Regions from separate parts of the Homo sapiens genome. Here all the other regions are linked to region 2. Evidence: fine-mapped expression QTL. A gene starts in region 2. Each other region holds a variant in brackets. All regions are shown on one strand. Distances are from middle to middle. Region 1 overlaps RAB11FIP4 (RAB11 family interacting protein 4). Region 2 holds the start of RAB11FIP4 (RAB11 family interacting protein 4). Region 3 overlaps RAB11FIP4 (RAB11 family interacting protein 4).

Region 1 (9,733 bases), 97 kb after region 2:
TGGGAAGCTGAGGTGGGGGGATTGCTTGAGCCCAGGAGTTTGAGGCTACAGTGAGCTATGATTGTGCCACGGCACTTCAGCCTAGGCAACAGAGCAAGATCTTATCTTTTTTTTTTTTTTTTTTTGAGACAGTCTTCCTCTGTCACCTAGGCTGGAGTGCAGTGGCACAATCTTGGCTCACTGCAACCTCCACCTCTCAGGTTCAAGTGATTCTCCTGCCTCAGCCTCCAGAGTGTCTGGGATTACAAGCGCTCGCCACTACACCCAGCTAATTTTTGTATTTTTAGCAGAGACAGGGTTTCGTCACGTTGGCCAGGCTGGTCTCGAATTCCTGACCTCAGGTGATCTGCCCGCCTCGGCCTCCCAAAGTGCTGGGATTACAGGAGTGAGCCACTGCGCCGGGCCTGACATTGTCTCTTTAAAAAAAAAAAGGAACCTCACAGGTAATGCTAAGAGACCAGGGTACCTAACTCAAGACCTTCCTTCCCCACATCCTCATAGGTGGTGCTATGCTCAGAAGGCAGGATTATATTTCCTATTAACTCACTCTTAGCCCCCGTTTGAACCAAGGACACTGAATCCTAGCCTGTGTTAGAGCCCTCAGATCCCATATTCATCCTGTGTCTAATCTCACCCATCAGATACAGTCACCATCCCCACCCCACCCCCCACTGGACTATCATTGCTTCTCTGAACCCTGCTGGAAAGTGTTAGCCCTTCCCTCAAAAGTCAGGGTCCTAAATTTTCCCTCAGGCTGCCTCTAATCCTCACCTCTGTTCCCCTCAGCCTCTTGCCATAATGATCATTAGTAATAGCTACTGTTTATTGGTTACCTGCTCTGTGCCAGGCTCTGTTCTATGTATTTTACTGGTCCTGATTATTTTGATCCTCACAATAGTTCTAAAATACATACTATTATTATCTCCAATTTAAAGATGAGGAAATTGAGACACTGGGACTTAAACTTGCCTACGTTCATTTAGCAACAAGGTGGTAAAGCCAAGATATGGCCCTTGGCCCCGGCACCCATGCACAGAACCAGTGCGTCAGACTGCAGCTCACTCATGCTGCTGGTAGTGACTAGGAACTGCCATTTATTGAGCACCTGCAGCATCTTAGGCATTGCACTAGACACTTTATCATTTCATTGAAACTTCACAACTGCAAGAGGAAATGTCTTATTTCCATTTTCTAGAGGTAGAGACTGAGGCTCCAAAACATTGACTTCCCTTGATAAGTGGAACCGGGCAGGCTTCAAACCCAGGAGTGTTCAATGCATCTGTGGCCTTTCTCTGTCACTCTGCTTTTAAGGACAAGTACCTGCAGACATTCCCCACTCCACTACCTTTGAGAAAAATAAAGAAGGACCTACTGATACCACCCGTTCCATAGAGCTCTTGAGAAATGTCGCTCAGGCTGCCCATGGTGGGGACAGGGAGGGGGCTTGACAGGCCTGACTTTCTCCATTGACCTTCTCTGGGAGAGAGTCACGACCAGAGAAGGGATGATCACCCTTGGTTTCTGCTTTTCTTTCTTGGTTCTGGACGATCCTGTCATGTGACCTGCTTTGAGCCTAATAATCCTTAGGGGCAACATCGGACTTGGAAGGGAAGAAGGGAAACCAAGATAGAACCCCTGGACTCAGCCACATCCTAAAACCTTTTGGGACACTGCTGAGCTTAAGGTCTCAGGGTGGAGATGGGAAGGCAGATAGAGTGGGCCCAGGGTGCATGGGCTCAATCGCATACCACACCTTTGAGGAGTGCCTAAAATTAAGTGTAGTCACTGTGCTAGGGTGTACAACATCCTGTGAGGTACCATTCCCATCTTACAGATGAAGACATTGAGTCTTAGAGAAGTAACAGAACTTGTCCCAAGACATCTGGGAAATAAGACTCAATTCAAACCCAAGTCTGTTTGATTTCAAAGCCAGTGGTATGATACACCACATAGGTACTCTTATTTTTTTTTTAAATAGAGACAGGGTCAGCCAGGCGCAGTGGCTCACGCCTGTAATCCTAGCACTTTGGGAGGCCAAGGCGGGCAGATCATGAGGTTAGGAGTTCAAGACCAGCCTGGCCAATATGGTGAAACCCCGTCTCTACTAAAAATACAAAAATTAGCTGGGCGTGGTGGCACACACCAGTAGTCTCAGCTACTTGGGAGGCTGAGGCAGAAGAATCGCTTGAACCCAGGAGGCGGAGGTTGCAGTGAGCCAAGCTCACGCCACTGCACTCCAGCCTGGGCAACAGAATGAAATATAAATCTCAAAATAAATAAATAAATAAACAAATAGAGACAGGGTCTTGCTGTCAACCAGGCTGGAGTGCAGTGGTGCCATCATGGCTCACTGCAGCCTCAAACTCCTGGGCTCAAGTGATCCTCTTCAGCCTCCCAAGTAGCTGGGACTACAGGTACGTGCCACCACACCTGCCTAATGTTTTTATTTCTAATTTTTTGGTAGGGATGGGGTCTTGCTGTGTTGTCCAATCTGGCCTCAAATACCTTGCTGTGTTGTCCAAGCTGGCCTCAAATACCTAGCCACAAGTAACCCTCCTGCTTTGGCCTCTCATAGGCACTGGGATTACAGGCATGAGCCGCCACATCCAACCAACATGTGTGTTCTATATGATACACCACAGTGCTCCTGTGTGTTAGAGACTGTGGGAGCGGACCCAAACAAGAGAAACAGTCTGGCCTCTGCACATATATCTCTGAACAGCAAGGCATACTTTCCGAGGAGAGGGCTGGGGCAGTGGAGTTTCTCTTGGGGCCACAGCTCTAGCTCCTCTCTTAGGTGGCTCTGGCCAGGAGGCCCTCCTGTACCTAATGCTGTCCCATTTGGAAAGTCCCCAGCAGTTCTGGGAGCTCCAGCGGCTGCTTTGCCTCAGAGACAAGCCCTGGTAAACATAGGGGCCGCTGCGAATTTACTGGCAGGAGAGACTGAGAAGGAAGTTGACAGCCAAGAGGCAGAGAAGTGGGCAAAGCTGGTGCGTGTGTGCATGTGTGTGTGTGCATGTGTGGGTGTGGGTGGGTGTGTAGGGTGGTGCAGGACCAAAGCACCCAGATGCCCCACTGGTCCTGCCCGTACCAAAGTGCCGTTGCCACTTTGTTGGCCAGTGAAGACTCAGGGAAGGCAAAGGTGGCTTTGAGCCAGACAGGAAGATAAATCTCTCCCCTCACTCAAGTTATATAGTGCAACAGCAGGTCAAAGGGCAACCACATTTGCAATATTTGCCGCTTTACATTCATCTCATTTTTGTCTTTTTAAAGTCCAGGGCATGGTTAAGAGTGATGGGGGGATGGGGAGTACATTTTTAAACATTTAATTTTTTGTAGAGACGAGATGTCGCTATGTTGCCCAGGCTGGTCTCAAACTCCTGGCCTCAAAGATCCTCCGCCTCGGCCACTTTGTCTGAGCCACTGTGCCCGGCCTGAGGACACATGTTTGACATAAATAGTATTTACTAGCATTCAACAGGAAGGGTCCTCTCCTTTTTTTTTTTGGTTCTTTAGTTCTCGTTGCCGCTTGGTTCTTTGTGTTCCTGGGCTGGTTATGGAGATGGTTCCGACTTCACATGAAAAGGCTGGAAAAGTTGTGGGTAGGACTCTGGATGAAAGTCAGCCTAGGCGCCCCCGGACTCATTAGGGGGTGGAGGCGGCGGCGGACCGTGTGGGGCGGGGTGCGCAGTGTGAGCCGGGGAGCGCCGGCCGGAATCTCACAGTGCGGTGACAAAAAACCGTGAGGGTGGCGCAGAACGGGCAAGAGACTACAGCGCCTACCTGGCAGGGGCGCGAGCTCACACGCCGACTCCTGGAGTCCCAGCCAGGGCTGCCCTGAGCTGGGCGCGCCCAGGCGAGCTCCACCTCCGGAGGCGGGGCCGGCCGCGCGGCCATTGGTCGGCGCCCTGGAGCCACCTGCCCCTACCTTGGGGGCGGGGTTACCTGGGCCCCGCCCCGCGGCTCGGGTTCCGGGGCCGCGTCCCTGTCCTCCGCCCCCGCCCCCGCCCCGCCCCGGCGCGAGGCCCCGCCCCCGAGTCCCGGGGCCCAGGCGCCTCGTGATGTCACCGCAGCTTGATACAAAGAGCCCTTCGGCCCACGCGGGTCTCCCGGCAACGGGCGGGGGCGGGGCCGCGCCTTCCACTGGTGCCCAGAAGTGCGAGCGGCAGCGGCGCGGCCGCGATTGTTCCTGCGCTTCGGGGCTGCCCGCCGCGTCCCCGCGCGCCGCCGACCCGCGCCCGCTGGCTTCCGCGCCTCTGCCGGGGAGCGGCCCGCGGATGCGCACCCCGCCAGCTCTCGGGAGCCAGGTAAGCGGCGGCCCCGGGGCTGGCGCTCGCAGGGCTCCGGCGGCGCGCACCTGGCTCGGCCCGGCCCGCGGCCCCGGGAAGTTGGCGGAGAGCGGACTTGGCCTGGGAGGTCG[T/G]GTTACCTGAGCCATCTCGTTCGGCCGCGAGTAGAAGCCGCTGCCAGGTGCGCGGGTGGCGGCTCCTTCCCCAGCGCAGTTCCAGGAAGTGCTTTTAGTGGACTAGGAAGGGGGCTCGTCTGCTGGGGCGCCTCCCTGGGGACCCGACGGCGGGCCCCACCTCCGGCCGCAGCGCCCCTGCCCTCCTGCCCTTGCGGGATCGGCGTGGTACCCAGCGCCGTACCCTTGGGCCGGGTCCCCGAGGGGGCTGAGCGCCGCGAAGTTTTTCTGTAGCTCTTGGCGGCTGCACAGAGCCTGTTTCCTGGCTTCCCCCGTCCCTCTGGGATGGTGGAGGTGGGGAGTCCTCGGGGCCAGCCCAGGTCGTGGTGTGGGGCCGGGGCCCTGCCTCTCCCCAGCCGAGAAGCTGCAGTGGTGGGAGGTGTGTTGTGGCCCTTGAGGCGGCCGGTCTGGCCCGGTGGTGGGAGCTGTTGGCACAGCCGCTTCTCTGTGCGGGCGACAAGTGTCTCCAAGGTCCTGGCGGCGCAGTCTCTGGAGAGCGTGTCTGTGCTGTGGGGAACTGGGTTCCGACACAGCCCCGCACCCTACTCCTCGCCCATGCAAACTCTCCAGTGCCTTCTCTTTCCCTTTTCCCTCACCCTGCTCTCCCACAGAGGGCTGGAAATGACACCTCACTCGCCCCGAGGGCCATGCCAGTTTTCCTTGACTGACCGATTTTCTCAAAGCAATGTGAGAGGTCTGGGTCCTGTCTCTGCACTTAGCCTCCACCAGGTCTTGGAGTGGCAGCACCCTGGGCTGGTTCCTGGTGATCCACCAAACTTCTGCCCTGCCCTGCCAGAGCAGGAGGCAGGTGGCATTGGCTTGGGCTTCTGGGACGCTGAAAAGCAATGGGGCAGGCACATTCCTTAGAACATCCCCAGGTCCTGGCCCAGCTGAAAGGTGGTTACAGTGGTTGCTGGGATGGGAAAAAGGAGACTCAAAGGGGTCGGAGGCAGTACTAATTGTGTGCCACTAGACCTCTGCAATGGGAGCGCTCTCACTCCCCCCCATATCCTCCCCCCACCAACTAGCCTTGCGTTGGTGGAGTGCCTGAGTCGCTGCCTTTGACTGGGGTCTCCCCCAGGTGCTGGCACCCTGGCACTGGCCCAAACCTTACCCTGCTTTCTGGCTTTCGGGGACTGTTGATTATGTTCCCAGGGAACATTACACACGGGACACTTCCCTGCCTTCAAGGTGTTTGCAAGCTCAGGCAGTCTGAATACTGGGTCTGCTCTGGGCCTGCCCAGCTCTTCTAAGTTGATTGCAAGTTGCCTGCAGTTGTCTTTGAGGTCCCTGTCACTTCACAGGGGAGAGTGTCGCCTGGCGGGGTGAGGGAAGCCGCTAGGGTTCTTCACTGCAGAAGGCAGCACCCCTTGGGCAAATGCGTAGTGGAGAACAGCTTCGGAATTTGAAGGGGGGGCCTGGACTTAGGCGAAGGGGGTGGAGTAAATGACTAAGGCCAGTAGAAGAGATAAGACTGGGCCGGAGGCGAGGGGCGGGACTAGCCAGGCCAGGTGAGCCAGCTGGAAGGCATGACCTTTGCCCTAAGGGAGGTCTGTAGGAGAGACTGCCTGGAGCCTGCCCTCGGAAGGGACTTTTAGGCAAGTGGGGGAGGAAAAGCAGAAGAAATTAGAGGGCCCATTGGGTTCTAAGCCACCTCCTTTGGGGTTCCAGGGGCAGCCTGCACTCGGAAGGCTCTGGGCTGCAGCTTGAGATACTCCACCGGCCCTCACTCTCCCTCCCGACCATCTGTGCCACTTCTAAAGCATGCTAGTGCCTTCCTAGCCCCTTCCCCTCCTGGTAGGCAGGCTGCTTCAGACCCAAGGTTTTCTCTTTGGCCGTTCACCTGGGGCCCTTGCAACTCCCTCCTTCATCTGTACCCGTAGGTATCTGGCAGTCCCCGATCTGGGCAGCCCGTTATGCTGAGGTTTTTCACAACTGATTCTGTTCTGAGGAGACTTCGCAATTTCACTTTATATGTTTTAGGTATGGGTAAGGAGGGGGTGAAGGGGGTAGGAGAGGCTCCCAATGAAATAGCAGGTGAGCAGTTCCCAGAAGGCAGGCATCTCCGAATGAGAAAGGGCATGCTGTTTCCTGGCACAGGGCTCATTGTGTTTGAAAAGGAAGCATCTTTTTTTTTTTTAATTGAGTTGAGACAGGGTCTTGCTCTATGGCCCAAGCTGGAGTCAAGTGGTGTGATCAGGGCTCACTGCAGCCTCCCACCCTCCCAGGCTCAAGCAATCTTCCCACCTCAGTCTCAGCTGGGACTACAGGTGTGTGCCACCCTGCATCTGGCTAATTTTTGTTTTTGTTTTTGTAGAGATGGGGTTTTGCCATGTTGTCCAGGCTGGTCTTAAACTCCTGGGCTCAAGGGTTCTGCCTGCCTCACCTTCCCAAAGCGCTGGGACTACAGGCATGAGCCACCACACCCAGCTGAAGCATCTTTATCTGTTCGTGCCTGCTGTCTGGTGTTAGCAGTGGGGCACAGTGCCCTGGCCTTGCCAGGCATACAGAACCCCTGGGGCTGGACTCTGTCTTCCTCTGGGTCAGCTCTGCTGGCTCTTGACTCAGGAACTGGGCACCTATGGCTTCAAACACTGGCCTCGAAGATCAATGCCCAGTTACTTCATCTCAGGTCTCATGGCTGGATTATTGGGTGGTCCCATCCATACCAATTAGGCACCACAAGACAGGCCTGCCTATTTGGCAGTCCCACCTGGTGCCTTACTGGATGTCGTACGATCTTTGCCCCTGAATGGTACCACAGTCTCCCTCACCAGGAGGCGTTTCAGGACACGGAGGCTTCCCCATTTCTGTTTGCTCAGCCCCCAGCACATTTCCCAGTACAGGGCAAGTGGTACTGAATTCATTCACCAGATTCTTCGTTGCCTACTTTGTGCCAGATTCTGTGCTGGGCACTGGAGATACAGCAGTGAACAAAACAGACGAGAACCCCTGCCTTCAAGGAGCTCGCAGGATGGTAGTGAGGCAGGTAGAGCAGTAAAACACGGAGTATGGGAGTTGGCAGGAGGAAGAGCAGGGAAGGGGAGGGAGTGCTGGGTTTCAGAGTCAGACAGGGAAGTCCTCACTGAGAAGGTGACATCCAAACGAAAGAGGTTCAGGCAGAGAAAAGAGGAACTGCAAGGGCCCTGAGGTGGGACGGTGGCTGGCATGCTATGTCTGTCCACAGAACTACAAGACAGGATGTGATTGGAGAGCAAGCCAGGGCTGGGGGGACAGGGGACAAGCTCAGAGAGATGGGGGACCACCCAATGCTGTGACAACCCAGAATCCCAGGAGGAGGAGGAGAGGGGACTGACAGTACAAGTGAGACTAGAAATCCACAGGCACGAGCTGCCTTCCATTGCTCTGCCCTTCTCAGAGCCTCCGCGTCGAGGGGATTTGGGCATTGAGGCATTTCTGGAGGACAGGCTTCTGTGGCCACTGCTGCCACAGACTTCCCTGCCCTCAGCTTGAGTTGGGTCAGACGAGCCTGTCCATGTGAACGTGGAAACATTTCCTGCCAGACTATGCTGTTGCCACCACACGAATCAAACCAGCAAAGGGCACGCCGGCGATGTGCATACAGCTGTGTCTCTGACAGCTGCCTGGGCCTGCCTGCTGTTCCCACGGGTCAGCTCCTGTCGGGTAGGGACAGGTCCTGCTCTCAAGGCTCATAAAGCAGCCAGCAGCCTGCCCGTGTTTTCCGTACTCTGGCCTGTGTCACCCAGGCTGTCTCCTCATCTCTTGTCTGATCCTCAAGGGTTCCCTGGCCTCCCTCTTCACTCCCTCTGCCTGTGGCAGGCAGCAGCACAGTTCTATGGGGTCCTAAGGACCCCAGGGAGTCACTCCCACATTTGAGCAGCAACTTTGGGTTTAGTCTGTCCAGGTTAGGGCCCCAGATCATATATATGTGTGTACACACACGTGTGTTTGCGTGTCATGCGGCATTCGGATGGGGCATCCTGTTCATCCACCCCCCTGCTATGGGGTGGCTGAAGGTTGGGGTGCCCTCTGAGTTTTTGGTGGGTGGGGCTTCAGCAGGGTGTCTTGGCTACCTCTCCTGGCCAGCACATGTTATCCTGGGAGGATTTGTAGCTTTGGGCCTGACCACGGTTCCAAGCACCATGATCTGGAGCCCACACTGGGTGGCAGGCTGCAGAGAAGGTGCCCCCAGAAGCCTGGACTGCACCCTTATCTGTTTTCATTTGGAGCTATTTTCTCATTATCTCATGCCAAGTGTCTGACTACACATGGCAGTCCTTCCCCAAGTGTTTGCAGCTTCATCATAATACTGTTAATTGAATGGAATTTGTCATTGGCCAGCTTCTGTGGACCCCATTCAAGGCTGAGTGGATGCTGGGGGCGCCCAGCTGGCCTTGCTCAGAGGGGTCCCGAGCGTCTTGGTGCTTCAGGAGCTGAGCCCCCCTCAAGAGCATTGATGACAAGAGCTCAGATTCTCAGAACCCCCCTGAGCACCCAGACAACCTTGGTGGTTACTTCTTCACTTTTTCGCATGACCTGGAAAGGAGATGAGACGGGGAGGAGAACATAGGCAACCAGAAGGACGTGCAGCCTACAAGGGTCGTATGAAGGTCAGAGGGGTGGCTGTGATGGCCCAGAGCTGTGGGGTCTGAGTGACCTCCAGCCCAGAACCGCCCAGCAGGCCAGTGCTAGTCATGCCAGCACTTCCAAACCCACTTCTTGACTGACCTTAAGAAATGGGAAGTTTTCCAACTGTTGGTCACATTTTTAATTGATCTAACCTGCTTCATCTTCCCAGACAAGTGGGTTCTTTCCCAACAATGTAAACATTAATTCAGATGAAAACAAAGCTCTGTAGAAGTTATTAATATCTGTGGCTCTGCTCATGGGAGCCTTTCTCTTTTGAGGTACCAGAAAGAGGAAGGCCTAAACAGAACTGGAGTGTGGGAGAGTGGGCGGGCTCTCTCTCTTTAGTCATCTGTGGTCACCCCCCACCCCCCTGCGCTGTGCAAGCCTGATACCATGGAAAGGGAACCCACATTTCAAATAGCTGCTGCTGCTCCGGTGAACTTGGGGTAAGGGAGCTGAGGGGTGTCTACCCTCTGCACCAGACTCAAGTCTCCCTCCTAGAATAGGAGCGAGAATAGCAGCAAGTCCCTGCCCCCTGCTCCCTCGTTTTCCTGGAAGAAATGCCTACCTAAGACACAGACACCTGCATCCCACGCTTTGTCACCCAATGCCTGTTTCCTTAAGGAGAAAAAATGGGCGCCAGAAAACTTCTAGGTCTAGATC
Region 2 (9,733 bases):
ATTAAGGGTCCACCTAGCTAACCCAGAATAACCCCCCTGTCTCCAGATCCTGTTGTTTTTTTTGTTGTTAGTTTTTTTTTTGTTTTTTTTTTTTTTGGAGGCAGGGTCTCACTCTTGTCACCCAGGCTGGACTGTAGTGGCATGATCTGGGCTCACGGCAACCTCCACCTCCTTGGCTCAAGCCATCCTCCTGCCTCAGCCTCCTGAGTAGTTGAGACTACAGATACATGCCACGATGCCCAACTAATTTTTGTATTTTTTAGTAGAGACAGGATTTCATCACATTGCCTAGGCTGGTCTCGAATTACTGGACTGAAGCAATCTGCCTGCCTCAGCCTCCCAAAGTGCTAGGATTACAGGCGTGAGCCACCACGCCCAGCCTCCAGATCCTTAATTACATCTGCAAAGACCCTTTTTCTAATGAGGTAACATTTACAGCAGGGGTCCCAACGCCCAGACTGCAGACCATTACCAGTTCATGGCCTGTTAGGAACCACAGCAGGAGGTGAGCGCCGGGTGAGTGGGCATTACCGCCTGAGCTCCACCTTCCGTCAGATCAGTGGCATTAGATTCTCATAGAAGCGGGAACCCTATTGTGAATGGCGCAGGAGGGGGATCTAGGTTGCGCACCCCTTATGAGAATCTGAAGCCTGATGATCTAAGTTGGAACAGTTTCATCCCAAGACCCTCTTCCCCCGACTTGTATGAAACCAGTCCCTGGTGCCAAAAAAGGTTGGGGACCACTGATGTACAGGGATTGGAATATAGATATCATTTAAGGGGGCATTTTTCAGCCTACCATGCCATATTTGTCCATTCCTTAATTTATTCCTACACAGACCCTAACTATGTGTGTATGGGCATTATTTAGGAGCTACAGAAATCAGGAGAGAAATAGACACAGTCCCTGCTCCCAGGGACCTCATGGTCACTCCTGTGACCTTTCATACAGTTTCCCAGATAATCCGGTGATAGACAATAGGAGTAAGATGGTAAGGATAGTCACAAGGACAATAGCTGTCACTAACCAGCAGCACTGTTCTGACACTTACAATGTATGTATTAACTTACTGACTCTCACCACAGCCTTATCCATACCTGTAAGTGGGCTGCAGTCTGTACTTTTCACTTCTCTGCAGGAGCACATGGGAGAGGTGGTCAAGGTGGGCAAGGAGTGGGGTGGTCATGAAAGGCTTCCGGTAGGAAGTGCCACTTCCACAACACAAGGACAGGAATTAGAGAAAGTGGAATTGGGTGGGGGTAGGATTGAGACCTCCCACCCACTAAGCAAAGGGAGGCAGGAGGGAGCCTGGATGCTCCCAGACTAGGGTTAAGGAGAGGCAGGAGAGTATGAAGACACTGCACAATGCCAGCTCAGGCAATGGTGGCCATTGAGTTTTCAGCAGGGGAGGGACCTGATCAAACTTGTTTCTTCCTAGAGAAGGGGCCGGAGTCCCAACTGTCCCTTCCATGTATATTTCCCAGTATATTTCCAGCCTGCCCAGGCTGCTGCAGCTGTTGGAAATCCCCTGGAGAATCAGAGGTCACCTGGAGGAAGCGGAGGACAGAAAGGAGGCTCCGCGCCTTCCCGCCCTATCCATGGGGACCTCTTGCTTTCCTGGAGCAACCCCCTTCACCCTGCAGCCGGCCCTGACATGGGTATTCTCTTGCTGCTTCTGCTCGGGGCTGCACTCTGAGCTCTTGGATCAGGGTTTTGGGAGCCCTAGTGGTCCCAGGTCCACTTCCAAGGACCCAAGGACTCCATAAATTGCACCATCTCTGAGGGACCTTTGGGTAGGCACTCAGCCATTTCTGCAGGCCCTCTTGGGCTCCTAGAGCCTGGCACCTCAGTGTAGATCACACTGGGCCATGACTGCCCCCATCAAGTTCAGCAAGTGGCTGCACCCCTTTCACTGTCTCCCTAGCATACCCAACACAACGTAGGTGCTCAACAAAAACGTGACAACCCCAGAAAGAATGCCTGTGACGTGCTTTGCTGGCCCCAGCAGCACAGCGGTGAGCAAGAGACCCAGTGCCACTGGTGGGGGAGGCAGGTGTCCTTCAAACCATCGCCCACCAGAGACAAAACTGCAGAGACCTGGGCAAGGAGAGTCCGGTCAGGGAAAGCTCTCCTGGGGGATTTTTGAATTTGTGATGATCCTGTCTTTGACAAGAACTGGCTAATCTGGTTGCGGGATTCTGTCTTGGTTCACTTGGGATTTGTTCATGCTCAGGTCTGAGGTCCCCGCCTCTGCCAGCTGAAGTGGGTGAGTCTTCCAGCTCCCCTGTCCCCAGTTAGGGGGCATTCAATGCCAGGCTGAGCGCGGAGAGCCATTTCTGCAGCCCCCACCAGGGGGCAGCCCCAGCTCCTGGCCATCTCCTTTCTGTGCTGAGCCCCTTGGGTGAGAGAAAATGGCACGAGCTGACCTTGGACGAACTAATATCGGGGTCCCAGGGGCAGGCAGCAGCCCCCAGCTTCCACTCCCTACCTCCTTGCCAGGGGGCTGGCTGGATCTCCAGCAGCCAGTCTCTCCCAGCCAGCTGCTTGTCCTTATTCTCCACTTCCACCTCCATTTTGCAGGGTAGGTCGGGGGAAAGCAGCATTGCTTAGATTCGCTCTCATCTTCAGTTGCCCTAAAAGGAAGGTACTATTATCCTCACGGTACAGGCGAGGAAACCGGCTAAAATATGCTAGTATCCTGCTGAGCGGCATCCAGCTAGCAGAGACGCTCCTACTCAGCCGAATACCCCTACTCCACTCCCACGGCCTCCCCTTTCCCGCTTTCTCACATTTCGGACTCCTCAATCCTCAGAACCACAGGTCTCTCTTCCCAAGAGGTGTTGCCTTTCGTGGCTCTCAGACGAACTGAAGGGTCAAAGGAGAGTAGCTAAAAGCCAGGTTCATCCCAGGAGCCGGGGCTGGAAAGAAGAGGTCCCCGCCCACTGTCAGAAGGCAAATGGCAGTCCCTGCGCAGGATATATTCAGGGTTGAGCAGGAAGACCACAGAGGTACAAACCGAGGCCCAGCTAGGGGAGGCCATGCAGTTCACCCCGTACTCCCTGTCTGCGCCACTACGTTGCTCCCGGCTCCTCACATAATGGGCGGGCCCATCCCCTCTGGGTGGGGCTTCCTCTGGGCCCACTCTTGCCTGGAGATCAGGGACTTGAAGGTAATTAAGACATATCTTGCCCTGGAGGGCTTCCCAGCATGGTAGGGGAAATGGGCATCCCACTAGAGAATTAAGAATTAACTGGGCACCTGGAAGAAGGGCTTAGAACTCAGAATAGAAGATAAGATGGCGTGCCATCAGAGAAGCCTTCCCGGAGGAGGAAACCTCTGTGCTGAGCATGACAGCATAGGTGGGAGTAGACTCAGCCAAGGCCTTTTTTTGGGTTGGGGCCAGTCGTTGCCACAAAGACCTGATGTGCCGAGCAAGAAGGTGGAGAGAAGAGCCCGGCCGGGTCCTGCAGGGCCCCGAGGCTGGGCTGGGAAGTTAGCACAAGCTGGGGTGGAGGCTCCGCTGAGCACTAATGGGAGGAGGCCAGGGTCCTGACCTAGAGCCTGCGGCCAGCGGGACAGAGATTCTGTCCTGGATTCTCTGAGCTTGGGGCATGCGGGCTGCCAGGGAGGTGTGATGGTGGGAACCCGGCGAAAGGGAGGAAGCCTCTTCCAGGCGTGGAGCAGCCTTGGGCCCTGAACAGGCAGGCCTCTGGAAGCGCCTCGCTTTTCCTCCCTCCGGCCTCATCCTGGTTTTCTCCTCATCTCCCCGTCGCAGGGTCCCGGGTCCAGGCTGGGGTTCAGTTGCCTGCTCCTCCTCTCTGTGCCCTCCCCCGCCCGATGGCCCCACAAGTGCTGTCTTGCAGGAGAGCGCCGGGAGACCGCAGGGCGGAGGTGAAGAACGGAGTCCAGAGCCCTCCAGAGATGGCAGCGAATCCCGGCCCTGCCTCTTGCCAGCTGTGTGGCCTAGAGTGAGTCCGACCTCTCTGGGCCTCAGCTTCCTCCGGGATGAATGCAGTCACGGAACGCGCCAATGCAGGAGGCCCCCAGGACATCCTGAGCGCTCGGGAGACGCCAGGCGCGGCAGCGGGCACGGATAGCGGAAAGGGGCGCGACCCCGCGGAATCCTCCGGCAGGGCAGGGCCTTTGGGTGGCTCCGGGTGTCCAGAGGAAGGGGTGGGCTCGGGGACGCGGAGGGAAACTGGGGACGCGGAGGGAAACTGAGGTCGCGGAGGACGCGGCCGTTGGCAGCTCGCTGCGCCTGCCGGCCCCGCGTGGGCCGCCCCACTCGGGAGGACGCGGGCTCCTTTTGTCTGCAGCGTCCCCGCCGCCGCCGCCCCCGCCGCCTCCCCCTCTCCCTCCCATTTTCGCCGCGGCCCCCGCCCCTCCCCTCCCCGCCCCCTATTGCCCCTCCTCCTTCCCCTCCCCACTCTTCTCCTTCCCTCCCCTCCCCTCCCTTCCCCTCCGGAGCGGCTGGGGCTGCGGCGCCGCTGCTGACACGGATCGGCCGCGGCCGCCACCGGGCGGAGGCTGCGCGGCGCAGACCCAGACGGGCGGCCCCGGAGGGCGCGCGGCGATGGCGGCGGCGGGCAGGCGGCGGGCGCGGCGGGCGAGGGGTCCGGGCTGAGCTGCGGGCCGGCCCGGATGGCGGGCGGCGCGGGCTGGTCGGGCGCCCCCGCGGCTCTGCTGCGCTCCGTGCGCCGCCTGCGCGAGGTGTTCGAGGTGTGCGGCCGCGACCCCGACGGCTTCCTGCGCGTGGAGCGCGTCGCGGCGCTCGGACTGCGCTTCGGCCAGGGCGAGGAGGTAAGCTGGCCCGACCCCAGTCCCGGCCCGGGGACCCCAGCCCAGCCCCGCCGCCCCTCCCCCAGCTCCCCCGCCGGGTCACCCGCGTGGCCCGAGGCGGTGGCCTCCCTCCCAATCCCCTCCCTCCGCCGGAGCCCAGGACCTCGGCCCCCCCCGGGTATCCCTGGCCCAGCCGGGCCCTCGCTTTCCGCCCCCCGGCGCCCGTGCCCCGAGCGTCACGCGTCACGCCTAGGGTGGCTTCTGCGCCCACCTTCCTTCCTCGGCCATGCAGGTCCTTCTGAGCGGTCTGCACATCCACCCTTGTCTGGGGGAGAGAGCTGCCAGAATCCGGCCCTAGGCTCCCCACCCCACCCGGCGCTGCGGAGACCAAGATGCAAGGGTCTGTGTACGTCCTGCTGGGCCGGGCCAGGGGGTGAAAGGGACCGGTAGGGGTGCTCTGCAGCCTTGGCTCCTCGGCTGCACACACCCTGCCCAGACACGGAAGGAGGTGTCTGCTGGGGCCACCGTGTACTCCCGGGCCAGTGTCGGGTGACCTCTCATTCAGGCTCTGCTGGGCAGCCAGGCTGGCAGCTGGCTGTGTTGGTTGCAGCAGGCCAGGCAAAGCCAGGCTCGGGGAGTGGTGGCTGAGCAGAGGGCTTTCATGTGGCGGGGCCGCATCTATTTGGGGAAAGCAGGACTTACGTAGATTGTTAACAGGGCTGGAAGCGGAGGGTCGGTGCCGCCAGTAGGGTGGACGGAGTCATATCACTAAACGCACACTACACCAGTGTCCTCTGGTGCCACCGGCATGGGGACTGGGGACTGTGTCTCAAGGGGAGGACAAGACACCCACCTGGCTGAAATGGTCAGGGGTTTCCCCTGGAGCCAAAAGCCCTGAGAAGTGGGTTTCCAAGGCCATCTAAGGCCTCAGGCCCTGCATGGGGGGCCTGGGGCCATGGGCCTCAAATGGGCACTGGCTGGCATTGTGTTCCCAGAACAGGTCGGACCAGGCATTTCAGAACATGGGAGAAGCTGGGTGATGGCCAGGTTGGGCCCGTGCCTCTGCGTCACCAGAGAGTGGGAGGCGATTGAGAATCATCTCTCCACCCGCACCTGGGCATGGGCCGGGACTTGTGAGTCGCTGAGAGCTGTGGGCAGAAGAGAGTGAGGCAGCTTCAGGGCTTGAGAACTCAGGTACCCACCACAGGAAAGACCACTGCAGTGCCTGTGAGAGCCCAGACTGCCCTCTGCGGGGCTTTGCTGAGGGACACTGCCTGCTGCCACCATGACCCTTCTTCCCCAAAGGCCAGCCAAGCCCTTCCGTTTTTCCAGTGGCTCCCATCTGGGGCAGGCTGAGCAGACTCCTGGCATGGGGATAGTCGCGCTCCTTCCTCTCAGAACACAGACTGCAGGTCGGGTAAAGAAGCTACCAGCTCTGGCTGAAACCTGGAGTCCCCGAACTCAGAGCCTCAGTAGTGGGAAGGGCCTCCCAACAACCTCTGGCAGGGGCCACCGGCCTCAGCCACGTGCCCAGCAAGCCTCACCCACTTCTCCCCCAGCTGGACAGTTCCTGCCATTAGAACCTTCTCCCTCATACACTCTAGAGACAGACCTGCTTGTCACTTAGTCATCACCGTTCTGCACGGGGACTCACATAGGTCTCTCTTCTTTGGGGGAGCCTTTAAATATTTGAAAATAGCACTCCTGCCCCTTCTCTCCTTCCCAGCTCCATACTCCCATTTTCCCTTCTCCAGGCCAAATACCCCAGTTCCTGAAGCCCTAGGCCATTTCCATGTGACCCAGTAGCCAGACCTCTGGCTTCTGGCCTTGGAGCTGCCATCGACTAATTCTGTGATTCAGTTTTCCTAGCAATAACATGAAAGGGCTGGACAAGCAGACCGCCCCCCGCCGCCCCCACCAGGACTATATTAGCCCCAAGACCTCACACATATGCACACAGCTTAGGGTGGGGCTGCCTCTGAATGGGGCACTGCACTCTGCTTATATTAAGTTTCTGGCCACCGAAACCTCCAGGGATCTGTTTTAGAAACCTCTGCCAAGCCAGGGATTCTCCACCCTTCGGGGAGGGTCAGTGATTTTTTTCTTTTAAAAGCATACTCTGAGATTACTACAGAAGCGGTGGATATGCATTGCAGAAAACTGGAAATAGGGACAAGCAAAATAAAAAGTATTGTGTCCTATCTCTCAGGCAGCGCCTCAATGACACTTCTGTCAGACCTTTCCAGAGCTGTTTCCATGCTTATATGTCAATTTTCTCCAGAAAATGAGATCATACTGTGCATACTGTTTTGTAACCTGATTTTTTTTGCCGGTAAATGATCATGACTTTTCTGCTTCAATAAATTTTCATCTGGTTTAATATGCAGACCTTTTTCAGATTTCCCTATTTGACCCCAAAATGTCCATTTTTGCTGTTTCCTCTCCAGGACTGTGCAGTGTATGTGGTTGTTGTCACCTTTTAGTCTCTCTTACTGTACACAATTCCTTTTTCTTTTCTTTTCTTTTCTTTTTTCTTTTAACAATCCTGGCTTGTGGAAGCATTCGGGCCTGTTGTCTGTCAGTAATTTCTGGAATCTAAGCCTGTTTCTTGGCCCTTATTCCCATTTAATTTCGTCTTGTTCATTTCATCACATTGTATCTGTCAAGAAAGAGAATCTAGCATCCTACCTCTATCACTCTCAGCTGTGCTGCTGCCTGCGGGCTGGAGAAGCAGTGCTTGGTGTGTCTGAATCCACAAGGCTGGTTAAACATTGCAGGGCAGGACCATGGACAGGGCCCCGAGGCACTTGTAGGGGTGGTTTTCGGCTTATGCTGTATTGACCGAGACCCGTGGAAATATATTTTGCATCTCTACTCACTACCCATCTTATCCCCTGATGCATTAAAAAATCGGAGTGTTGTTTTCCAGCGGTGGGGTGGCGGGGGGCGGGGGGGGGGGGCTCCCTTACGAAATGCAGTGTACTCTGACTGTTTCTATTTTATTTGTTTTAAAATCAGGCAGTGACATTGATTTCCCAGCCACTTGTGCTCTGGGATGGATAATGATCATTCATTAGATATGTAGTTCAGTGAACTTAGAGCTGATTGTCCACAGTTTACCACCTACCCCCAGAATACCAGGGATACCAGGATCAAATGCTTTGCAAAAACCAAAATATACTAGGTCATAAAGTATGAAATAAATATCCATGAGGCCATAATGAAATATATATATGTATAAATTATTGAACAGATGATAATAAATAAATAGGAAAATCTCTCGTATAGAAGAAATCTGAATAACGTATGTTGATAATTGCCCCATTGAGGAAGTGAAGCATAACGTCCCACCGTGTAAGCATGAGATGTGCGTAGTGGCTTCCTTATAAAGGGTAGAGTTTGGAAAGTGGGGGGAACAGCAACTGTATAGTGGAGAAACCCAACAAACACTGTCTCAGAAGGTGATCAAGGACAACATCGATAGTGACAGATTGTGATGATGGCATACACCCTTGGTGTGATGTGGTGAGAATAGAACTTTTCCTCTGTGGTCTTCCTCCCAAACCAGTAATCCCAGTCTAGTCCTGAGAAAAATGCCAGACAAATCCCATCCGAGAGGCATTCTACAAAATGCCTGATTAGGACCTCTCAAAATTGTCAAGGTCATCCAAAACAAGGAAATTTTGAGACACTGTCAGAGCCAAGTGGAGACTAAGGAGGCAGCTGACTAAATGCAGTGTGGTGTCCTGGATGGGACCCTAGAATCAAGAAGAGGACATTAGGTAAAAACTAAGGAAGTCAGGATCAAGTATGAATGTTACTTAATAATGTTATTTATGGATTAGGTTAGTCCCTGATAGTTCCCTACTTTGTTGACCTAGGTATCACAGCAGAAAAGAGGAGACAATGGGCCGGGCGTGGTGGCTCATGCCGGTAATCCTAACACTTTGGGAGGCTGAGGTGGGAGGATCACTGGAGCTCAGGAGTTCCACACCAGCCTGGGTAACATGGTGAGACCCCCCATCTCTACAAAAAATACAAAAATTAGCCCGGTGTAGTGGCGTGCACCTGTAATCCCAGCTAGTTGGGAGACTGAGGCAGGAGAATCGCTTCAACCTGGGAGGCGGAGGTTGCAGTGAGCTGAGATTACATCGCTGCACTCTAGCCTGGGTGACAGAGTGAGACCCTGCCACAAAAAAAAAAAAAAGAAAAGAAAAGAAAAGAAAAGAAAGAAATGCAGATTTTTGAGGGATGGGGGCACACCACTGCCCTGATCCTGAAAGTCTACAATGCCAGGGAGCAGGACTCTGATAAGTATGTAACATGATGGCTCAACATCCTGACCCTGTGTTGCCTTCTGATATATTGCATTGTCTCCCTAACCTCTTTAGGCCTCTATTTACTCATCCATCAAATGGGGCTGATCAGAGTCCCCATTCTATAGGGTTATTGTGGGGTTTGAGTGAGTTAATACATACAAAGGGCTTAGTCCAGTATCTGCACAGAGTAGGCATAATATCAGAATTGCTGGTGCTCTCCTTGTCATTATTATTATTTTCTAAACACTTGCAAGCATTTTTGAGAGGCTGTTCTAGGCTGGAGATTTGCTAGGAATTGAGGTCAAGATCTGGCACCGGCCTCTGTGTGCTCAACTCACCCTCCTTAACCAGCTGTGGTGTTCCTGCCCCTCTTACGTCCCCTCGGCAGTCAGAATGGTAGACATTGAAAGCAGCCAGAGATGTCCTGGACCACACTTCCCTGTGACATGGTCCTCTTCCCTTTCCAGTTTGAAGACCGTCCTTCTTGCTAGAAAAATAGAAATAAGAATCACCAAGTAGGCCTCTCCCATGCATTAACACAGCACCATCTCCTCTGGACAGTGGGCCTGTCCTGCCTGCTTGGAAATGAAATGATGGTCCCCACTGGGCTCCCTGAGTCCTCAGGTCCCCTCTG
Region 3 (9,733 bases), 130 kb after region 2:
TGAGGCCAGGAGTTTGAGACCAGCCTGGCCAACATGGCAAAAACCCCATCTCTACTAAAAATACAAAATTAGCTGTGCATGGTGGCAGGAGGCTACTCGCAGCTACTCAGGAGGCTGTGGCAGGTGAATCACTAGAACCTGGAAGGCAGAGGTTGCACCAATGCACTCCAGCCAGGCGACAAAGCAAGACTCTGTCTCCAAAAAAAAAAAAAAAAAAAAGACAAACTTAAAAAATAACACAGTATAACAACTATTTACATAGCATTTACATTGCATTAGGTATGATAAGTAATCTAGAGACGATCGAGTATACAGGAGGATATGCATAGGTTGTATGTGAATACTATGCCATTTCATATCTGGGACTTGAGCATCCTCAGATTTTGGTGTCCACAGGGGGTCCTGGAACAAATCTCTCTTGGATGCCAAGGGATGACCATACTCAGTCTTACAGTATCTAAAATTTTAGATCCATTTATATTCATTTTCTGTATTACTCCGAATGTTTTTTTTTCCTCTCCTTAAAGTGAAAGCAAGTTTATTAAGGAAATAATAAAACAATGGCTACTACAGAAGCAGAGCAGCTACTCCGAATGTTTTTTTGTTTGTTTTTTTGTTTTTGTTTTTTTTGAGACGGAGTCTCCCTCTGTCGCCCAGGCTGGAGTGCAGTGGCACAATCTCGGCTCACTGCAAGCTCCACCTCCCGGGTTCACGCCATTCTCCTCCCTCAGCCTCCTGAGTAGCTGCGACTACAGGTGCTCGCCACCACGCCCGGCTAATTTTTTGTATTTCTAGTAGAGTTGGGGTTTCACCATGTTAGCCAGGATGGTCTCGATCTCCTGACCTCTGATCCGCCCGCCTCGGCCTCCCAAAGTGCTGGGGTTACAGGCGTGAGCCACCGCGCCTGCCACTACTACAAATGTTTTAACAAACCTTTCAACAACTATTTGATATTCCACAATTTAATAATTTACTAACATTATAATTTAATAATTATAATTTGATCTAGCTGTAGCTAGACAATTAGGTTGTAAGCAGTGTTTTGCTACTGTGGAGTAGCATGGGTAGAATTGGTTTGAACTGTAGAAATGGTTTCTGTGGTGAGATGTTTCCCTTTAGATAGGGTCCCTGAAATGTACTTACCAGGTCAAGAGCTACAAACTTAATCGGTAGTGCCAATTAAAGGGAAATGCCTGTCAGTTTCCCCACCACGGGCTGTGGCTGGGGACCCATGAGTCCTCCTCTGACTTGGGTGCTCTCGGACCCTCAGGTCCCTGGTCCACACTCCATCCATGACGACCTCAGACCTTTCTACACACTCCACCACCTCGCTCATCAGCAATGAGGAGCAGTTTGAAGACTATGGGGAGGGTGACGATGTGGACTGTGCCCCCAGCAGCCCTTGCCCCGATGATGAGACCAGGACCAACGTCTACTCGGACCTGGGGTCTTCGGTGTCTTCCAGGTGGCCCCTTGGTCTGGGATGTCATTTGGGGTCAAAAGTTGCAGAAGCAATTTAAGCACATCCTAGGGGGTGGGGGGGTGCGAGTCCTGAGCTGGCCCTTTTCCTTTGTCCTCAGCTACTTGAGTTCTGCTCCTGGGGCTTGGGGTTGCTACCTTCGCACCCTGATTAGGGGTCAGGAGTTCCTCCTGAATTAACTGACCTAGGAGGCTGCACACTGGGGGCCACGGGGCTCTGTGTCATCTTGTATCCTAGAACCTCAGTGTTGAAGCATCCTTCCAAGTGACCCCTGTGATCCCTTCTCACCCACCTGAGTCACCACTTTCTCTGAAATGAGCTCGCAGTTTGCCTTAGCTGTTAAATGGGTATGCCTCACTGGCTTCTCTTTGAGCGTGTTGGAGAAGGGATGATCTGTTGCTATATTTCCACTCCCTGCCCCTCCCCCGTAACAAGGTTCAAAGGTACTGGGGACTCAAGTAAAGTCAGCTCAGCAGGGTGGTGTAGGGCACCAGACTGGACAGCAGTTAAGGTGGTGATTCCTTTCCCTCATGAATCAGTGCGGGGCAGACGCCTAGGAAAATGCGGCACGTGTACAACAGCGAATTGCTAGATGTTTACTGCTCTCAATGCTGCAAGAAAATCAACCTGCTCAATGACTTGGAAGCCCGACTGAAAAACCTGAAGGCCAACAGGTGAGGCCCAGGCCCAGCTGGGGGGTGAGAGGCCGGGGGGCCAGGGCAGGGCCTGGAGGGAGAAGCTACGGGCATGGCGAGGCGACCCCTGCTGTCTGGGCAGGTGAGAGCTCTCAGAGGAGGGTTGATCCAGGGGCTTTTTCTGCCACAGGAAATCAGGCTGTTTCTTCTCAGGACCAAGCTGACTAGTGAATTCCTTTCAGTGGGAGGGAAGAGCCTTGTCCTGCACTGTGGTGTCTTACAGCTAGGACAGAGTAAGGGAGTGGACTAGAACCCCTCTGTTCAATGACTGTTTCCTTTCTCTCTCTAGCCCCAACCGAAAGATCTCCAGCACGGCCTTTGGACGGTAAGGCCCGCCTCGAGGGAGGGCAAATTGAGTGCTGTCCCCATGCTGCCCACTGGCCGGGGCTCCCTGCCAGCAGCCCGGACTCAGCTGGTGCCCGCATGTGGCTGAGTGAGCAGAGGGGAACGAGGCCATCCCAGGGCAGTGCAGCCAGGGCAGCGTCACTTCTGAAAAAGAGGGGCCAGCTCCTCCCTGCTCTCTCCCCACCCCTTGTCCCTTCTTCAAATCCTAGGTCACCTTGACTTCAGGCAGGCATGCCAGGGATGCCCTGAGAGAGACAGAGCACCCCACAGCGTTCAGTGCCCTTCCTGCCTCTTGGAGCTGGCAGCCATACTCAATAAAGAGACCCCGGGTTTCCTGCAGGCGGGGATCTGGGCATGAGTGTGCGCCATTGGGGCTGGTCACTTTGCTCCGATTAAGTCCTGCGGCAGTTCAGTGTGGCCCCAGGTCCACACTCAGGGCTCTGGGAGCTGGCAGCAAGGGCCCAGGAGCTAGGTGGGTTGGCCTCTTGGCAGAGACCCTGGCTGCTGCCTATCAGGGAGCTGGAAGGGGATGTCACTGGGGGTGGCAGCTGGATTTTGCCTCAGGCACGGGTTAGCTCAGCAGGCCCAGTCCCACCCCAGCTCACTGCTCTGCAAGGCCTGGAGAATTCTCTGCCTTTGCCATCCCCCAGAGTTCCCAGAGACGTAGCAGGAGCCAGCTTGGTGGAGAGGCTCAAGCCTCAGGAGGCCCAGACCCTCTTCCAGGGCCATGGAGCTGGGCTACCTCCTTGGGGGCTTCCCCACTGGAAGAGGAGGGGGCTCACGTGCCAGCTGAGGTCACTGGGTAGCTGCAGGCCAGCATGCTGGCGTGAAGAGGGTTCTGAGGCCGCAGGAGAAGCTGTGCGTCATTGGCTGTGTCTGCCAGGGGACCCCGGGGGTCTGTACAGCCCATTTGCCATCCTCTGGGCGGGGTGATCCGCTGAGTTTGGCAACATTCTTCCTCTCAGGCTGAGTGAGGGCAGCCTCCTTAAAGGGGCAGACCCCCTGGGGTACTGGATGCTCGCCTAGCCAGTAGTGTGAGTAGGCCCCTGTCTCTGGAAGGCCCCTGCAGCCAGACACCCTCCTCCCACCCCTGCAGGCAGCTCATGCACAGCAGCAACTTCAGCAGCAGCAATGGCAGCACCGAAGACCTGTTCCGGGACAGCATTGACTCTTGCGACAATGACATCACAGAGAAGGTGGGCCTTGGGTGGCTGGAGAAGGGACTGAATGCATGCCTGCTCCCAGGGGAGATGGGGTGCACTCAGGCTACTGTCTGGGGACTTGGGAGACCCTGTACCTGCCTAGGAATTGGGGGCAGGTGGCCCTGGTCACGTGTTCCCCACTCCCCCACCCCACACATGACCGTTCTCAGATACACAGTGGTTTGGAGGTCCTGCTCATGAACCTCATGGCGTCGAGGTTCTCGGTTCTGTGGCCTCAGAGGTCTTCTCCACCCCACCCCGGCCCCCTGCTGCAGGTAAGCTTCCTGGAAAAGAAGGTGACAGAGCTGGAGAATGACAGCCTGACCAATGGGGACCTGAAGAGCAAGCTGAAGCAAGAGAACACACAGCTGGTGCACAGGTCAAGCAG[G/T]CAGCGGCGCTGGGGGCTCGGCCGTGACGCTGGGGAACAAAGGGGGGTCCATCTTGCTAAGACCTCCAGGAGGAGGCAGCCTCATGCCTTTGCAGCTCTGAGGGTCTGTGACGCATCAGCCTCTTGTCACATGGCCCTGCCCACATGTGGTGCCCAGGACAGGACCTTAGGGACAGGGAGACAGGTTGGAGCTTGACCTTGGCTCTAGGCCCAATGGATTCTACCCCCTGAGGTCTGAAGCCACAGGGCTGGTCCAAGATGGGAGTGGGGATCCACTGTGTCTCACTCATACAGTGACAGGAGCCTGACGTCCCTTCCTAGGGACAAGCTCTGCAGGGGACAGGCCAGTGTGAGCTGGGCGGTGGGAAGGGTCCAGCACTGCTGCTGATGGAGGTCCCCTGAGCCTGCCGTTCCTGATGCTGTCTGCAGTGGTGGATTCAGGGTTTAGTTGTCCTCACCAGATGGCATGACCCTTGGGGGACATACCCTGGCCAGGGGTCCGGTCCTCCAACTTGTCACAGGGCCCAAAGATGGGCCCTTTTGTACACCCCAGAAGGTCAGCCTGGTGGAGGGGCTGTTGCCAGTGAGACGTATCCCAGACCGAAATACCAACCAGGCTGTCACTGGGGTGCTCACATCTACGTGCCCCTGGCCCTGTCCCAGGTCTGGGGCAGACTTCAGGCCACCAGCCAGGATGTGCCTATTTTGGGAGTCAAGGTGCCCAATAAGCTGAATTATTAATCAGAGGGGTGGCCGGGAAGGAACAGCACAAAAAGAAGAGGTGAGGCCTGAGGTGGTTCCGGCCAGGTGTGGCTGCAGGGACTGGTGGGGGCGGTCCCTCCCTGTGCTGCCCTGAGCGCCCCACCTTCTGACTGCCAGGCCTGCCCCTCCATGGCATGTGTGACCGACACCCCCTCTATATGTGCGGTGTCCCCGTTCATCTCTCTGAAAGCTACTGGCCCACACGCCCTCAGTGGACATGCCAGTGACTCAGGGTCTCGGGGCCCAGGGTCCCCCGTGCCACAGCCTGGGTTGGGGTGAAATGGTGCAGGCCCCAAGAGCTTGCCCATTGCGCTGTCCTCAGGGTGCATGAGCTGGAGGAGATGGTGAAGGATCAGGAGACCACGGCCGAGCAGGCTCTGGAGGAGGAGGCGCGGCGCCACCGCGAGGCCTACGGCAAGCTGGAGAGGGAGAAGGCTACCGAGGTGGAGCTGCTCAATGCCAGGTGGGCCCCTCCACCGAGCCCCCTCCCTCAGAGGGACCCCCTGTCCTGGGGCAGCCCTGTGGGATAGGCGCTATCCCCATTTTATAGATGGGAATGTGAGGCTGAGGGGCAGCCTCTTGAGACTTTCCAGTAGTAACAGTTCCACTTTAATACCACGAGAAACACAGAGGCATGCTCTTCAGGAAGTTCGCTAAGGAATGTTCCCAGGAGCGTGGCTCACATTTGGTAATGCAAACCACACAAATGTCTGTCAGAGAAAAGGGCCTGGGCTGGGTCTCACATCCAGGCCTGGAGCGCCCCCTGCTGTCAGGTTCTCCCCTGACCCCTGGTGGACTGAGCCAGAGCCCCAGGGCCAAGGTAAATGGAAAACCCGGCTCCTGTGCCTTGCGTGTACCTGTGGCTTCGTCATTGGAACGTGACGCAGGCGGGACAAGGAGCAGCCCCGGGCCAGGGATCTGAGTTGGTCTCCCATTAGCTCCATGGCCTTGGACGTACTGGGTCACCTCCCTGTGTGCCCCACAGAGCGGCTGTGTGGGTGGGTGAGCCGATGTAAGTCCAGACCCTGCCCACGGGTGAGGGCTATGATGATGCCTCTGTGATGAAGCCCCTTTGCGGCCCTTGACCGAGGCCGAGGAGGCCGCCTGGGCTTCTGGCAGAGAGGACAGCTGCCCTGGCACTCCTCAGGCCCCCTGAGGCCCCAGTCTCCATGCTGAGGCTTCCCAGAGTTGCCGAGCCCCACCTGGCGGCTGGTGGGCTGCTGAGCAAATGACTGGGAGTTGGGCTCTCAGGCAGGTACCTCCCTGCCCCCGTGTCCCTGCCCCTGTGCAGTTTGGTGAGGAGACTTCCCAACTCCCCGGTGTCTGAGACCTGCTTTGCTAAGTTACCCACCAGGGGTTCATTTTACATTTTGACTCTATTCTAGAAGCTGCTGTTTTGCATCTGTTTCTGGAGGCTGGTGCCTAGTTAAGGGTGACTGCTCTCGCTCAGCCCGCCTCGGCAGCTGGCCCAAGAGAGGTGGCTGGGACACGGGAGGTGGTAAAAGACAGTGTGAACCTGGGCCACAGGACAAAGTGCAGAAAGCCAGCCCTCGGGAACTGTCTCCTAACGTGTGCCCGTCACACAGCTCCGGGGGCGCCATTCGTGTAAAATATCCGAGTGGTGTTCCCAGAGTCCTGCCGTATGCTTGGTTCCCTACCACTTCCACCCGCTTGGGGCCACCTGCTGGTGGTGGGGCTGAATTCCTCTCTGGAGCCCAGAGGGCAGTGGAGGCCCAGAAGCCATCCTTCCAGGAAAGAGGACATGATGGGGAGGTGGTGGGTTGAGAACGGGATGCTCTGCAGGAGTCACTGCCAGAAGTGACCCTGTTCAGTTCTGCTGCCACCGACGGCCCAACTCACCTGCACCTATTCTCAGACCATTTAAAACTGACCTGAGGCCGGGCACAGTGGCTCACGCCTATAATCCCAGCACTTTCGGAGGCCGAGGCAGGTGGATCACGAGGTCAGGAGATGGAGACCATCCTGGCCAACATGGTGAAACCCCATCTCTACTAAAAATACAAAAATTAGCCAGGCGTGGTGGTGCGCGCCTGTAGTCCCAGCTGCTCGGGAGGCTGAGGCAGGAGAATCGCTTGAACCCGGGAGGCAGAGGTTGCAGTGAGCTGAGGTCACGCCACTGAGACTCCGTCTCAAAACAGACAAACAAACAAAAAACTGACCTGAACACCCAGGCTCTGTCTTCTTGTGGAATCCCTTTAGGATTCCCTTTGTGGAATTCCTGTGTGAACGCTAACACAGAGGATTATTACTGTCAGAGCCCATGCCTGTGGTCATCAGAGGGAGGTGCAGTGAGCGCTCAGAGAAGAGCCCTGGATGAGATGCTGTTGGCGGAGAATGAAAAGCCAATATGATCATTGCCTTCAAGTTACAGAGTCTAACAGGAGGGCCCAGTCACAGAAGCCACAAGAAGACTGTTTCTCCATCTAGCAGAAAGACATCCCCGTGTTGTCTGAGGATCTGAAGGATGCATACAAGAAGAATCTGCGTTCCTACTCTCTAATGAATGTTTCCACTTATTGGAAAAATAAAGGCCACGTGTGGTGGCTCACTCTTGTAATCCCAACACTTTGGGAGGCCAAGGTGGGCGGATCACATGAGGCCAGGAGTTTTTGAGACCAGCCTGGCCAACATGGCAAAACCCGTCTCTACTAAAAATACACAAATTAGCTAGGCGTGGTGGTGCATGCCTCTAATCCCAGCTATTCAGGAGGCTGAGGCACGAGAATTGCTGAAGGAGTTAGAGGTTGCAGAGCTGAGATTGTGCCACCTCACTCCAGCCTGGGCAACAGAGCAGGACTCTGTCTCAAAAAAAAAAGAAAGAAAATAAGAATGATAATTTACTATTTTGCTTACAAATAGTCCTTACTATTTTGCTTTGGCTGATAGGAAGCTCACGGCTAAATTGTCTTTGACATAATAATCATATTCTTTCTCTCAGTTGGTTTCTGGTATCTTTCCTCTGGGAGGAAGCAGAGAATCACTGCAGACTGGCAGGCGCTTATCAGATAGTCTACATTCCAGGTTTCTGAGATTTGTCTTTCTCCTTTCGCCAGGGTGCAGCAGTTGGAGGAAGAAAATACAGAGCTTAGAACAACAGTGACTCGGCTCAAGTCTCAAACAGAGAAACTGGATGAGGTGAGCAGCAGATCCAGGCTTGGAGGGGCAGGGCTGGCCATCGGGAGCCTTTAGTTTATTGCTTCTGAAATTCTAAACAAATGCCGCACCCCCTAAGAAATGCAAAAAAAGTGAATAACAACTTGTGTTTCTGTATTTCTGATTTTCCAAGTTTTCTACAGCGAATGTATTTATTACTTTATACAATGGAGAAAAATTAGTTTTAGAAAGAGGTTAGCTTCTATTTGGGCTAACACCTTCAATTCAGGTTGCATCTAGCATCGTTGAAGGACTTCAGAGGCCTGAGGTTTTTAGTTGTATTTCTAGAATCATCGGGGCTCTGGCCGTTTCTGTAAGCCAAGACTCAGGGCTCCGTCTAAGGGAGCTGGTTTCACTGTGCATCTGCCTCGTGAAGATGGCTGACCAGACCCCAGGGACACCCCTGGACATAGTGAGCCCCTCTCTGGGAACTCTCCTCCCCTGATCGGGTCTCCCTGCTCCAGGAGCGGCAGCGCATGTCTGACCGTCTGGAGGACACCAGCCTGCGGCTCAAAGATGAGATGGACCTGTACAAGCGCATGATGGACAAGCTGCGACAGAACCGCCTTGAGTTCCAGAAGGAGCGGGAGGCGACGCAGGAGGTAGGTCCCAGGCCAGCAGGCACCAGGGCTCCTTCCAGCATCCCTGCTCCTGCCAACCTGCTTCTCTCCCTCGCAGCTCATCGAGGACTTGCGGAAGGAGCTGGAGCACCTGCAGATGTACAAGCTGGACTGCGAGCGGCCAGGCAGGGGCCGCAGTGCCTCCTCTGGCCTAGGCGAGTTCAATGCCAGGGCCCGCGAGGTGGAGCTCGAGCACGAGGTCAAGCGGCTCAAGCAGGTGGGTCTAGCAGTCTCTGTGTCCAGTGGGGCAGGGTGGCCGGGCCCACCACGTGGGTTTCCTGTGCAGGATCTGTGGTAGGGGAGCCCAGAGCTGTAGCAGCACTGCCTGTCTGCTTCTCAGCAACCTGTTTGCCAGGGCTGACTGCCCCATTTCACAGCTCAGGAAAATCGATCCAAAGATCTCTCCCTTACGTCTATGTAAGGAAATAGACCCTGCCTTGGTGCTCAGGGTGGAGGATGAGACCATACCCAGCTGCAGTATAGTGCCTGGAGGCATTGGGTTCTCCCAGAAGTAGACCCTCACCCAAGGTTCCTTTTTTTTTTTTTTTTTCCCAAGAGACAGGGTCTTGCTCTGATACCCAGGCTGGAGTGCTTTGGCACTCCATAGCTCACTGCAGCCTTGAATTCCTGGGCTCAGGTGATCCTTCTGCCTCAGTCTCCCTAGTAACTAGGACTACAGGCACACACCACCATGCCCAGCTAATGTTGTTTTTGTTTTTTGAGGCAGGGTCTCACTGTGTTGCCCAGGGTGGAGGGCAGTGGTGTGATCACAGTCACTATGGCCTCAAATTCCTGGGCTCAAGCAATTCTCCTACCTCAGCCTCTCGAGCAGTTAGGACTACAGGAGAGCACCACCACACCTGGCTAATTTACTTATTTATGTATTTATTTCCAGAGATGGGGTCTCCCTATATTGCCCAGGCTTGAACTCCTGGGCTCAAGGGATCCTCCCACCCTTAGTCTTTGAAAGTGTTGGGATTACAGGAATGAGCCACTGTGCCTAGCCAGAAGATTACATTTCAAGGAGCGCTGCCTTAGCTAGAGACCTTTGGGTGGGGGAGTGGATC

The links.
Region 1: its variant is fine-mapped to the expression of RAB11FIP4 in whole blood (TOPMed, PIP above 0.99).
Region 3: its variant is fine-mapped to the expression of RAB11FIP4 in whole blood (TOPMed, PIP 0.93).

The regions. Positions count from the first base shown.
Region 1 is chr17:31,483,966-31,493,698 of GRCh38, forward strand. The region is part of intron 3 of RAB11FIP4 (RAB11 family interacting protein 4); the gene reads left to right. Among named protein-coding and RNA genes, the nearest start is that of MIR4724, 46 kb to the right of the region's middle. RefSeq lists silencers at 3,675-4,414, 4,505-4,554 and an enhancer at 4,975-5,044. The variant T/G (reference allele first, on the strand shown) is at 4,421.
Region 2 is chr17:31,387,211-31,396,943 of GRCh38, forward strand. RAB11FIP4 (RAB11 family interacting protein 4) reads left to right here and starts at 4,465. Exons shown (of 15, transcript NM_032932.6): 1 at 4,465-4,801. The coding sequence starts at 4,643. RefSeq lists an enhancer at 3,680-4,269.
Region 3 is chr17:31,519,896-31,529,628 of GRCh38, forward strand. RAB11FIP4 (RAB11 family interacting protein 4) reads left to right here. Exons shown (of 15, transcript NM_032932.6): 5 at 1,271-1,465; 6 at 2,020-2,154; 7 at 2,465-2,500; 8 at 3,617-3,716; 9 at 3,998-4,101; 10 at 5,195-5,335; 11 at 7,947-8,028; 12 at 8,511-8,648; 13 at 8,725-8,883. Among named protein-coding and RNA genes, the nearest start is that of MIR4724, 10 kb to the right of the region's middle. RefSeq lists enhancers at 3,208-3,842, 4,501-5,115, 5,496-5,790, 5,731-6,345. The variant G/T (reference allele first, on the strand shown) is at 4,111.